Homo sapiens: one gene and its partners. The protein of the gene in region 3 purifies or fractionates together with the protein of the main gene of each other region. This does not show direct contact. Each region holds a gene or a part of one and is shown on either strand. Other genes may lie near its edges.

Evidence for each region.
Region 1: the proteins of DCTN4 (region 3) and ZNF74 purify together in Homo sapiens (co-immunoprecipitation; one large-scale study listed by IntAct). This does not show direct contact.
Region 2: the proteins of DCTN4 (region 3) and SEH1L fractionate together in Homo sapiens (co-fractionation; one large-scale study listed by BioGRID). This does not show direct contact.

The regions. Positions count from the first base shown.
Region 1 is NC_000022.11:20,406,553-20,408,955, reverse strand, and holds the end of ZNF74 (zinc finger protein 74), read right to left. Parts: coding exon 1,988-2,403; 3' UTR 501-1,987; downstream 1-500. UniProt on the Homo sapiens protein: May play a role in RNA metabolism.
Region 2 is NC_000018.10:12,971,808-12,975,543, reverse strand, and holds part of SEH1L (nucleoporin SEH1), read right to left. Parts: intron 1-3,736. UniProt on the Homo sapiens protein: Component of the Nup107-160 subcomplex of the nuclear pore complex (NPC). The Nup107-160 subcomplex is required for the assembly of a functional NPC.
Region 3 is NC_000005.10:150,713,820-150,717,555, forward strand, and holds part of DCTN4 (dynactin subunit 4), read right to left. Parts: intron 1,844-3,736; coding exon 1,746-1,843; intron 1-1,745. UniProt on the Homo sapiens protein: Part of the dynactin complex that activates the molecular motor dynein for ultra-processive transport along microtubules.

The DNA of each region.
Region 1 (2,403 bases), on a different chromosome or scaffold from region 3:
AACAAAAGAGTATCTAAGAGACCAGAGAGAACACTGTGCCTCTGTTTAGAAGTATAACAAGGACATGGATGAAGCTGGAAACCATCATTCTCAGCACACTATCGCAAGGACAAAAAACCAAATATCGCATGTTCTCACTCATAGGTTGGAATTGAACAATGGACACAGGAAGGGGAACATCACACACCAGGGCCTGTTGTGGGGTGGGGGGAGGCGGGAGGGATAGCATTTGGAGATATACCTAATGTTAAATGACGAGTTACTGGGTGCAGCACACCAACATGACACATGTATACATATGTAACTAACCTGCACGTTGTGCATACGTACCCTAGAACTTACAGTATAATTTAAAAAAAAAAGAAGTATAACGAGGACAGTTTAGATGCTTGAAAAAAAAATCTGCTACAAAGCTAAAGAGGGAAAAAAGATAAAAACTATAGATACACTGTGTTGAAAATAATGCAAAGTTCTACATGAACAAAGCAGAGGGTAATGTATCAAAGTGCAAAAGGCAGTTTTATTAAGAATTATGGGGATTTTATTTTTCAGAAGTCCACATTTTCTGAAGTGTGGTTATTTTGCCTGCATAATTTAAAAAGCATACTGAAAGCATTTCATAAACGATAGCACTCCGTATAAAGTATGATCACCAAGAGGGCAGCTTATTCTTGCTTAGGACTAAGTAGAAATAACATTCATTCAAGATTAACTCTGTCTTCCTGTCTCTGAAGAGTGTTGGGACAGGGAGAGCCGCCTTTTCCAGGGTTTGCAAAACAGCTCCATGTGGGACCACCATGGAGCCCGTCTCCCTGGGCTTCAGCTTCCCCTCTCCAGTGGGTGCTGGGAGGGGCTTCTTCTGTGACCTGGGCTGGTGACTGGTGCTACATAGTGAGAAGCCCTGCAGGGCAGCCTCACCAGCCCAGGGTGGCCCTGCCCAGCCCTGGTCAGTGAAGAGGAGCTTCCAGACACACCCATCCTGATGTTGTGCCCATCTTCCCTGAATGCACTGGGCACCTGCCTGGTAGCTCCCAATTTCTCACTAGGGGCTAAATGGCAAGAGGTGATGTTGGCATGTTAGGATCTGGCTACAATGATGCTGGGCCGTGCTGTGACAGCTGTGGGAATGCCCCTGACTGCACTGTCACTAAACACACAGCTCTGCAGTAGAGCTATTTACATGAGTTAAGTCCAGGAAATTCACTTTTTCCAAATGCCCACCACCCAAGATTATTCTCCTCTCTAGCAATATAATAATGTTCACTGGAAAGTGATGCTAGTCATAATTCTTGTTTTATTATTATTCTGAAAATAATAGTTTATGGAGGAAACTCCTGATTAAAGCCGTGTCAGGAGCCCGTCCGAGGATACAACAGTTGATATACCTCCTTTTAATTTCACACAGGGTCTTGCTTTGTCACCCAGGCTGCAGTGCAGTGCTGTGAATCATGGCTCACTGCAGCCTTGACCTCCTAGGCTCAAATGATCCTCCCACCTCAGCCTCCTGAGTAGCTGGGACCACAGGGACATGCCGCCACATCTGGCTAATTTTTGCATTTTTTGTAGAGACGAGGTCTCACCATGTTGTCCAGGCTGGTCCTAGACTCCTGGGCTCAAGTGATCCCCTTGCCTTGGCCTCCCACAGTGTTAAGATTACAGGTGTGAGCCATGGCACCCAACGATATCCCTTCTTTTTATTGGCAAGAAAGATCTTTCCCCTTGTCAACAACTTCCAGGCCCATCAAGGAAAACAGGTGGCAAGACTACCTCAAATGACTCTCAACACTCCTCCTGGAGTGTGGCCCTTCTGGGGAGGTGACTGACTTTAACTAGAGGAGGCACCCTGGCATGCAGACCTGATGGGGGTGATAAGGCAAGGCTCCCACACCTGGAGGAAGGTGGTCTGGATCTAGGAGCCAGGGAGGACCAGGGTGCTTTCCTTGTTGAGTAGCTCAGAAAGCAGCTACTGACACCAAAGCACATCATGTTAGTTTCGAGGTTTGCTCCCCAGGGAGAAATTCCTGCCAGCTCTGGGGGGAACCACGCACAAGAGCTTTGCCACATCCAGCGCGTCGATGGGATCCACGTCCCTCAGTCCAGCATCCCCTGCACCCAGCAGGCTGCCAGGCACGTAGTATGTGCTGAGCAGGTGTTTGTTGAACTGGATGGCCAAGGGCTTCCCCTCGCTGTGCAGCCTCTGGTGCTCAGTGAGGTGCGAGCTCCAGTTGAACATCTCCCCACATTTCTCACACTTAAACGACTTCTCCCCGGAGTGGATTTTCTGATGTTTAATGAGACAGTGGTTCTGGCTGAAGGCTCTGCCGCACTCGCTGCACTTGTAGGGCTTCTCACCGGTGTGGATGCGCTGGTGCACGATGAGGGACGAGTGGCAGCTGAAGGCCT
Region 2 (3,736 bases), on a different chromosome or scaffold from region 3:
CCTGCCTCCTCTCTGCTTGCAGAACACCCTCTGTCTTTCAAGATTCATGCTCAAACATCATCAGCTGAAACTTCTCACCCTACCAGGCAGGTATGTGCTGCCATCTCTAGCAGGTGACCATCCTCATCCATATCCTAGGCGCTGTAAGCTCCTTCAGCTCTTAGTACAGTCCATGCTGCTTATGAAATGTTGAAAAAGTGAGATTTTTTTTTTCTTACCTGAGGCAAGCTATATATTGTAATTAATTAAGGTGGCTGGGCACGGTGGCTCACGCCTGTAATCCCAACACTTTGGGAGGCCGAAGCAGGCAGATCACCTGAGGTCGACAGTTCGAGACCAGCCTGACCAACATGGAGAAACCCCATCTCTACTAAAACTACAAAATTAGCTGGGTGTGGTGGCACATGCCTGTGATCCCAGCTACTTGGGAGGCTGAGGCAGGAGAACTTCTTGAACCCAGGGGGCGGAGGTTACGGTGAGCCGAGATCACACCATTGCACTCCAACCTGGGCAACAAGAGTGAAACTTCATCTCAAAAAAAAAAATAAAATAAAAATAAAAATAATTAAGGTTATCTAAAGCTTCTCCTATCAGAAGGAGCCAAATAAGATCCTCAATGAGAGTGTAAATAAAGAGAATGAACAAAAAAGACTTTGTTTCTGGTCCTGACTCTGGACCTTAGACTAGTCATTCACTCTGTTGGTCTCAGTTTTCTCATTTGTAAAACAGTGTTAATAAAAGCTGTCTCCTCTACTTACAAGGTGGTTGGTAGGATTCAAACTTCATAACACACATAAAAATGCCCGGTAACCTATATAAACACATGGCACTTCTATTATCACTATCAATCCTAGATCTGTTTTAGTATTTTCACTCACAAATAAAAACAAATATATCCAACACTGGTTAATTTGGCAAATGTCTCCTGTCTACTAAATGGTGATACTACTTAGAAAAAGATAAACAGGCCGGGCGTGGTGGCTCACACCTGTAATCCCAGCACTTTGGAAGGCTGAGGTGGGCGGATCACAAGATCAAGAGATGGAGACCATCCTGGCCAAAATGGTGAAACCCCATCTCTACTAAAAATACAAAAGTTAGCTGGGCATGGTGGCGGGTGCCTGTAGTCCCAGCTACCGGGGAGGCTGAGGCAGGAGAATCGCTTGAACCCGGGAGGCAAAGGTTGAAGCGAGCCAAGGTTGCGCCACTGCACTCTAGCCTGGAAACAGAGTGAGACTCCATCTCAAAGAAAAAAAAAGAGAGAAAAAGATAAACAGGTATTAATAACGATACTACATAGTCCACTATCACATCTCCTCCACGTTCAATCTAAATAAGAACCTTCAAACAATGCTTACCTCAAAGAACCAGCAACAGAACTCCAAAAAGTGCTGAACTTAATAGGTTTGATTACTTCCCAAGTCAATAGCACACACCCCCACCTGCAGACACTCTTTCCCCAACACCACTTCCCCTCGTTTTTGATGCTGAAAATGCCAGACACTTGCTGTCTCACTCTCTTGCAGCTAAGGCATGGCTGGATGACCAAACTCCAGCCGCCAGCACCTGATAAGAAGCCTGCTAAGATACTTCTAGGAAAGGTGTTTTTTTCTAGAATACCCTTCTTTGTATTAGCATGTAAAACCTGACATTGTGCAGCTCTTTTGTGATCATAAGAGGGAGCTATCACCAGTGTACTAAGCATGACAGCAAGAAAAAAGTGGAAAATATTTAGGTAGGTCCTTGATGTCATCATTGAGCAACTGAGTCACTACCTAACCCCAGAACTGCTCCACCCTCAGGCTCCTTGTCACATGACATAATACAGGGAATCCCCCAGTCTAGATTTATTCTGTTAGCTAAGAGACTAGACTCAAATGCAATCTCAGATTATTTTTAACATTGGATTATTTAGGTAATTTAGAAATACTTAGGTAATTTCTAGGCCGGCCGTGGTGGCTCACACCTGTAATCCCAGCACTTTGGGAGGCCGAGGTGGGTGGATCACCTGAGGTCAGGAGTTCAAGACAAGCCTGGCCAACATGGTGAAACCCCGTCTCTACTAAAAATACAAAAATTAGCCAGGCGTGGTGGCACGCACTTGTAATCCCAGCTATTCAGGAGGCTAAGGCAGGAGAATCACTTGAACTCGGGAGGTAGAGGTTGCAGTGAGCTGAGATTGCATCACTGCACTCCAGCTTGGGTGACAGAGTGAGACTCTCAAAAAAAAAAAAAATAGGTAATTTCTATTTGCCTGTATTTTCTTTCAGAACTAACTGCAAGTTATTTATCTTTTTACTCAAATCTTACTTATGAAATATTTTCTTTTCCTATGTTTTAGAAAAAAATCTTTTTTTGACACTGCTGGAGTGAAGTGGTGCAATTTTGATTTACCGCAGCCTCGACCTCCCAGGCTCAGGTGATCATCCCACCTCAGTCTCCCAAGTAGCTGGAACTACAGGCATGCGCCATCATCCCCACAGCTAATTTTTGTACTTTTTGTAGCGAAAGGGTTTCACCATGTTGTCCAGGCTGGTCTTGAATTCCTAGACTCAAGTGATCCACCCACCTCAGCCTCCCAAAGTGCTGAGATGGCAGGCATAAGTCACCTCGCGTGGCCAATGATACACCTTTTACGTTTTTGGGCTTATGTCTACATATTCATTCTGCTCAGCTCAGGTTGAAATTTACTTTAACAAGCCCAACACTTCATGAAGCCTCTATAAAATGTGCTATTAATAGGGCTCATAGTTTTTACAGCTTAAAACTCCATGAAAATCTCTAAGACCATTTCCCATCACTGCAGCACATTCTACTGGACAGCACTGTTGAAGACTGAGCCTCTCTGCAGACACCAACAATCTAGGAAGGTAGAAGGTGTAAGATCCCCTTGGTAACCCAGATGGTAACATTTGGAATTGCAGAGCCCACGGGAGTAACACTAGTTCCTTCTCTACTGCTGGCCCTGCCTAAGATCTGACTATTAGACTCAAGAATTTTGTCTAGTACCTGCGAAGCCCATCTGATCACCTGACAAGTGCTCTCTTCTCCTGTAAGACTGAGTAGTGTGCCTCTGAGACACTGCTTTTGGCTCTCAGAAGCTTTGCAGACACTTGTATCTCGGCATGACCAAAATTAACTTACCTTCACATGCTGCCACACTCTACCCAAATCTGCCTTGTTCCCAGAGTTCCTTATCTCAAGAAATTACACACATTGAAATTACACACTGAACTCTTAAGCCAGAACCTTGGAAATCATCTTAACACCTTCCCCCTTCTTCCTCAGTTCAGTTCTCAAATCCAATCAATCACCAGATCCTATTGATACCACTTCTCAATTATTCTCAAGTTGTCCACTTATCTCCATGCCACTGCTACTACTATCCCAAAGCCACGTACTCTCCCACCTGGACTGTCTTCATAGCATCCTAGCCGTGAATCCACCATGTTTCCCTCCAAAACACTTGTCACACCTATAGAAGATCCATCTGATCCCATTATTCCCTATTCACATCACCTGTAAGATAAAACTGAAACAATGGACATTACTTCTTATAGATACAAGTCTTGCCTATTTCTCTCCACACTCATTTTTGCCCAGCATGTTCCAACAACAGTATAAATATACTCCCTCTCTCTTGCTCACGGCCTTACCACATGCAGTTTTCTCCACCAGGAGTGCTTCTGCCCTCTTTGTCTGGCTAACTTCTACTCACCCTATAGGTCATCTTCTA
Region 3 (3,736 bases):
AAAAAACCGTAAATGGGCCAGGCATGGTGGCTCACGCCTGTAATCCCAGCACTTTGGGAGACCAAGTCGGGTGGATCACTTTAGGTCAGGAGTTCAAGACCAGCCTGGGCAACATGGCAAAACCCCATCTCTACTAAAAATACAAAAATTGGCCAGGCGTGGTGGCGCTTGCCTGTAATACAAGCTCCTCAGGAGGCTGAGGCAGGAGAACTGCTTGAACTCGGGAGGTGGAGGTTGCAGTGAGCAGGAGATCACGCCATTGCACTCCAGCCTGGGCGACAGAGACTCCTTCTCTAAAAACAAAACAAAGACTGTGAATGTTCCCTGTGCCAGTTTACTAAGCTATTATTTTTCAGCTCCAAGCGCACCTCTCTCAATTTTGCTTTGTGACACAGGATTCTGCTTGGACTGTATCTGCTGGATCGGATGGCTCTTTGTCAGGTTCTGTCAGCAGCGGGCTCTAAAGGGAGACTAGAAGTCTGGAGGAGGAAGGGTCTTGCTCTTCCTTTAGAGATTCCTGTTTGCTTGTGGTCCCTGTTCCCTGTGGCCATCACTCCAAAAATGTCTTTTTTTTTTTGAGACAGGGTATCACTCTGTTGCCCAGGCTGGAGTACAGTCACAATCACAGCTGACTGCAGCCTCAGCCTACCGGGCTCAACTGATTCTCCCACCCTGGTATCCTGAGTAGCTGGGACTACAAGCATGCGCTGCTACACCTGGCTATTTTTAAAATTTTTTTGTAGAGACGGAGTCTTAACTCTATTCCTAGGCTGGTTTCAAACTCCTGTGAAGCAATCCTCCTGCCTCAGCCTCCCAAAGTGTTGAGAATACAGGGGTAAGCCACCATGCCCGGCCCAGCAATGCTTCTTTACCCAGGAGGAAGTGGCAGTAAGCAGTTGAAGTTTTCCAATTCTTGTATAATCATGCCACCCCTCCTTTGCCATCACGAGATGCCAGGACCACGCAAGCAGTGTTCCCCTTCAGCTCACTGGAGGCCTGAGTTTCAGCTACATGGAGCTCTTTGTTTAAGTTCTAAATTTTAATAATTCTAACTATTTCCCTTTGTTCCCTCCACCTAAGGGGTGGTAGCTGGCTCATCAAATAGCTATCTTTGAAATTTTATGCCCATGAAGTAGCATAAAATTGCTACTTCAGTGTTCTTTTTCACTTTTTAAGTTACACAAGTGAACAATTATTTATATTAAATCCTCTGTTCGAATCATTGAAAACATTCAGTCTACAGACTGAATTCTCTGATGGTCACAGTCCCCAGTTACTGGAAGGTTTGGTTCTTTTCAGTTATTAGATATGAGAGAGTAAAATCTATTAATTCCTCCAAGGGGGTGGGGGTGGGGAACAAACCCGATGATCAATCTCTAGGGACAGAGTATTGTATCCTGTCCACAACCATTAAAATCATATAATTAAAAATTTCTTTATTAACATGGGAAAATATATTCAAGTGAAAAAGGCTAAAAAACTGTATTTATAGAATGATCCCAATGAGGTGAGAAATATTTGGAAGGACAAATGCCAAAATGCTAATGGTGTTTATCTCTGGTGGTGGGATAATTTTATTTTCTTCTTCATGGTCTTACATATATTTCCCCAATTTTCTACAATAATTATTTTTAGAAACAGGAAGAAAAAAGTTATTTTAAAAAATCCAGACAAGAAAACTGGATATAAGTGGGCATTCTATTATCAGCCATTTGTTGTATGGGGATCACAAAAAGATCACTCACTCAGGATCGTCCTGAAAGTCTTGAGGTTCTGCCAACTCATCGTACTCTGCTGCTGCATCCTTGCCAGCTAAAACGAGCTCTTTGGGAGGCACCACCACCTGGAGAGCAACACAGAGAGGCCTGCCTGAGAAGGGACCAGTGTGACAGAATATAGCAAAGTACGACATTGATTTAGACAAATGGAAGCACACAGCAAGTTTCAGGAAACATATACTACTTCTATGGAGTTTATAAGAACAAAGGTTTTAAGAGAAAGCTAAGTTAGTACTTACTTCATGGGGTCTGCAATGAGGAACTGGGGAGAACATGGGGGCTTCAATTGTGTCTTTAATGTTTTATTTTATTATTTATTTTTTTGAGATGGAGTCTCACTCTGTCGCCCAGGCTAGAGTGCAAATGGCATGATCTCGGCTCACTGCAACCTCTGCCTCCTGGGTTCAAGCGATTCTCCTGACTCAGCCTCATGAGTAGCTAGGACTACAGGTGCCCACCACCATGCCTGGCTAATTTTTTGCAGTTTTAGTAGAGACGGGGTTTCACCATATTGGCCAAGCTGGTTTCGAACTCCTGCCCTCATGATCCACTTGCCTCGGCCTCCCAAACTGTTGGGATTACAGGCGTGAGCCACCGCGCCTAGCCCTAATGTTTAATTTCTTAAGGGGATGGGGAGAAATGGGTACTTGCCATATTATTCCTCATTTTTTTTTGATACATCTGAAACAGTCCATCATTAAGAACAACACAAAGGAGAAACACTGGTTCCAACACAATGTTTTTTGACATGGTACCAGCTGATTCCTGGTACCTGATACATAAACTTACATGAGATACTGGGTGATTATGGTCATGGAAAACAATTAGCATTCTTCAGACTTATGTTGTAATTAGGCCTCAACTTTGCTCTATCAGAGGTTAACAGTTAACAGTGTTGATCAAATTTCTAATTATAGATACAAATGTGGGAGGGGAGGTATAAAGAGAGCTTTATAAAGATATGCTGTGCTTATGCATCAGGTACTTATTTCTGTCTGTCTTAACTGGAGCTGCTTATTAGTGTTAATAAAAAAAGGAACGTCAGGGCACAGTGGCTCAGATCTGTAATCTCAGCACTTTGGGAGCCCGAGGAAGGTGGATCACAAGGTCAAGCGATTGAGACCATCCTGGCCAACAGGGTGAAACCCCGTCTCTACTAAAACTGCAAAAAATTAGCCGGGCGTGGTGGCAGGCGCCTGTAATCCCAGCTACTTGGGAGGCTGAGGTAGGGGAATCGCTTGAAACTGGGAGGCGGAGAGTGCAGTGAGCCGAGACTGCGCCACTGCACTCCAGCCTGGCGACCGAGTGAGATTCCGTCTCAAAAAAAAAAAAGCAACAAGGACCAAATAAGTGAAATAAGTGTTATCTCTCTTTGGAGGTGATGCTAGTAAGTGAAATCATTAAAAAGCAGAAGAAAAAAAAAAAGAGGACAGAAATTCTCTAATATTATTTGAATAAGAACTAAAGATATAGGCATCTTTTTAAACCATTTCTATTATAAATATCATGCTGAATTATGAATTAGTAATAGATGATCTATAGAGAAAGGCTCTTGTTCTAAAATTTCAAGTACTAGAAGTAGCAAAATATAAAGAGAGGCCATATTACATCCATTCAACTCACACTGAGTCAAAATCACCTACTTTAACATTTAGTTATTTTGTTTTTTGAGATGGAGTCTCACCTCAGCCGCCCAGGCTGGAGTGCAGTGGCGCGATCTCAGCTCACTGCAATCACTGTCTCCCGGGTTCAAGTGATTCTCCCATCTCAGCCTCCCCAGTAGCTGAGATTACAGGCATCTGCCATCATGCCCGGCTAATTTTTGTATTTTAGTAGAGACGGGTTTCACCATGTTGGCCAGGCTGGTCTTGAACTCCTGACCTTAGATGATCCACTCACCTTGGCCTCCCAAAGTGCTAGGATTACAGGCGTGAGCCACCAAGCCCAGACTAGTTAGT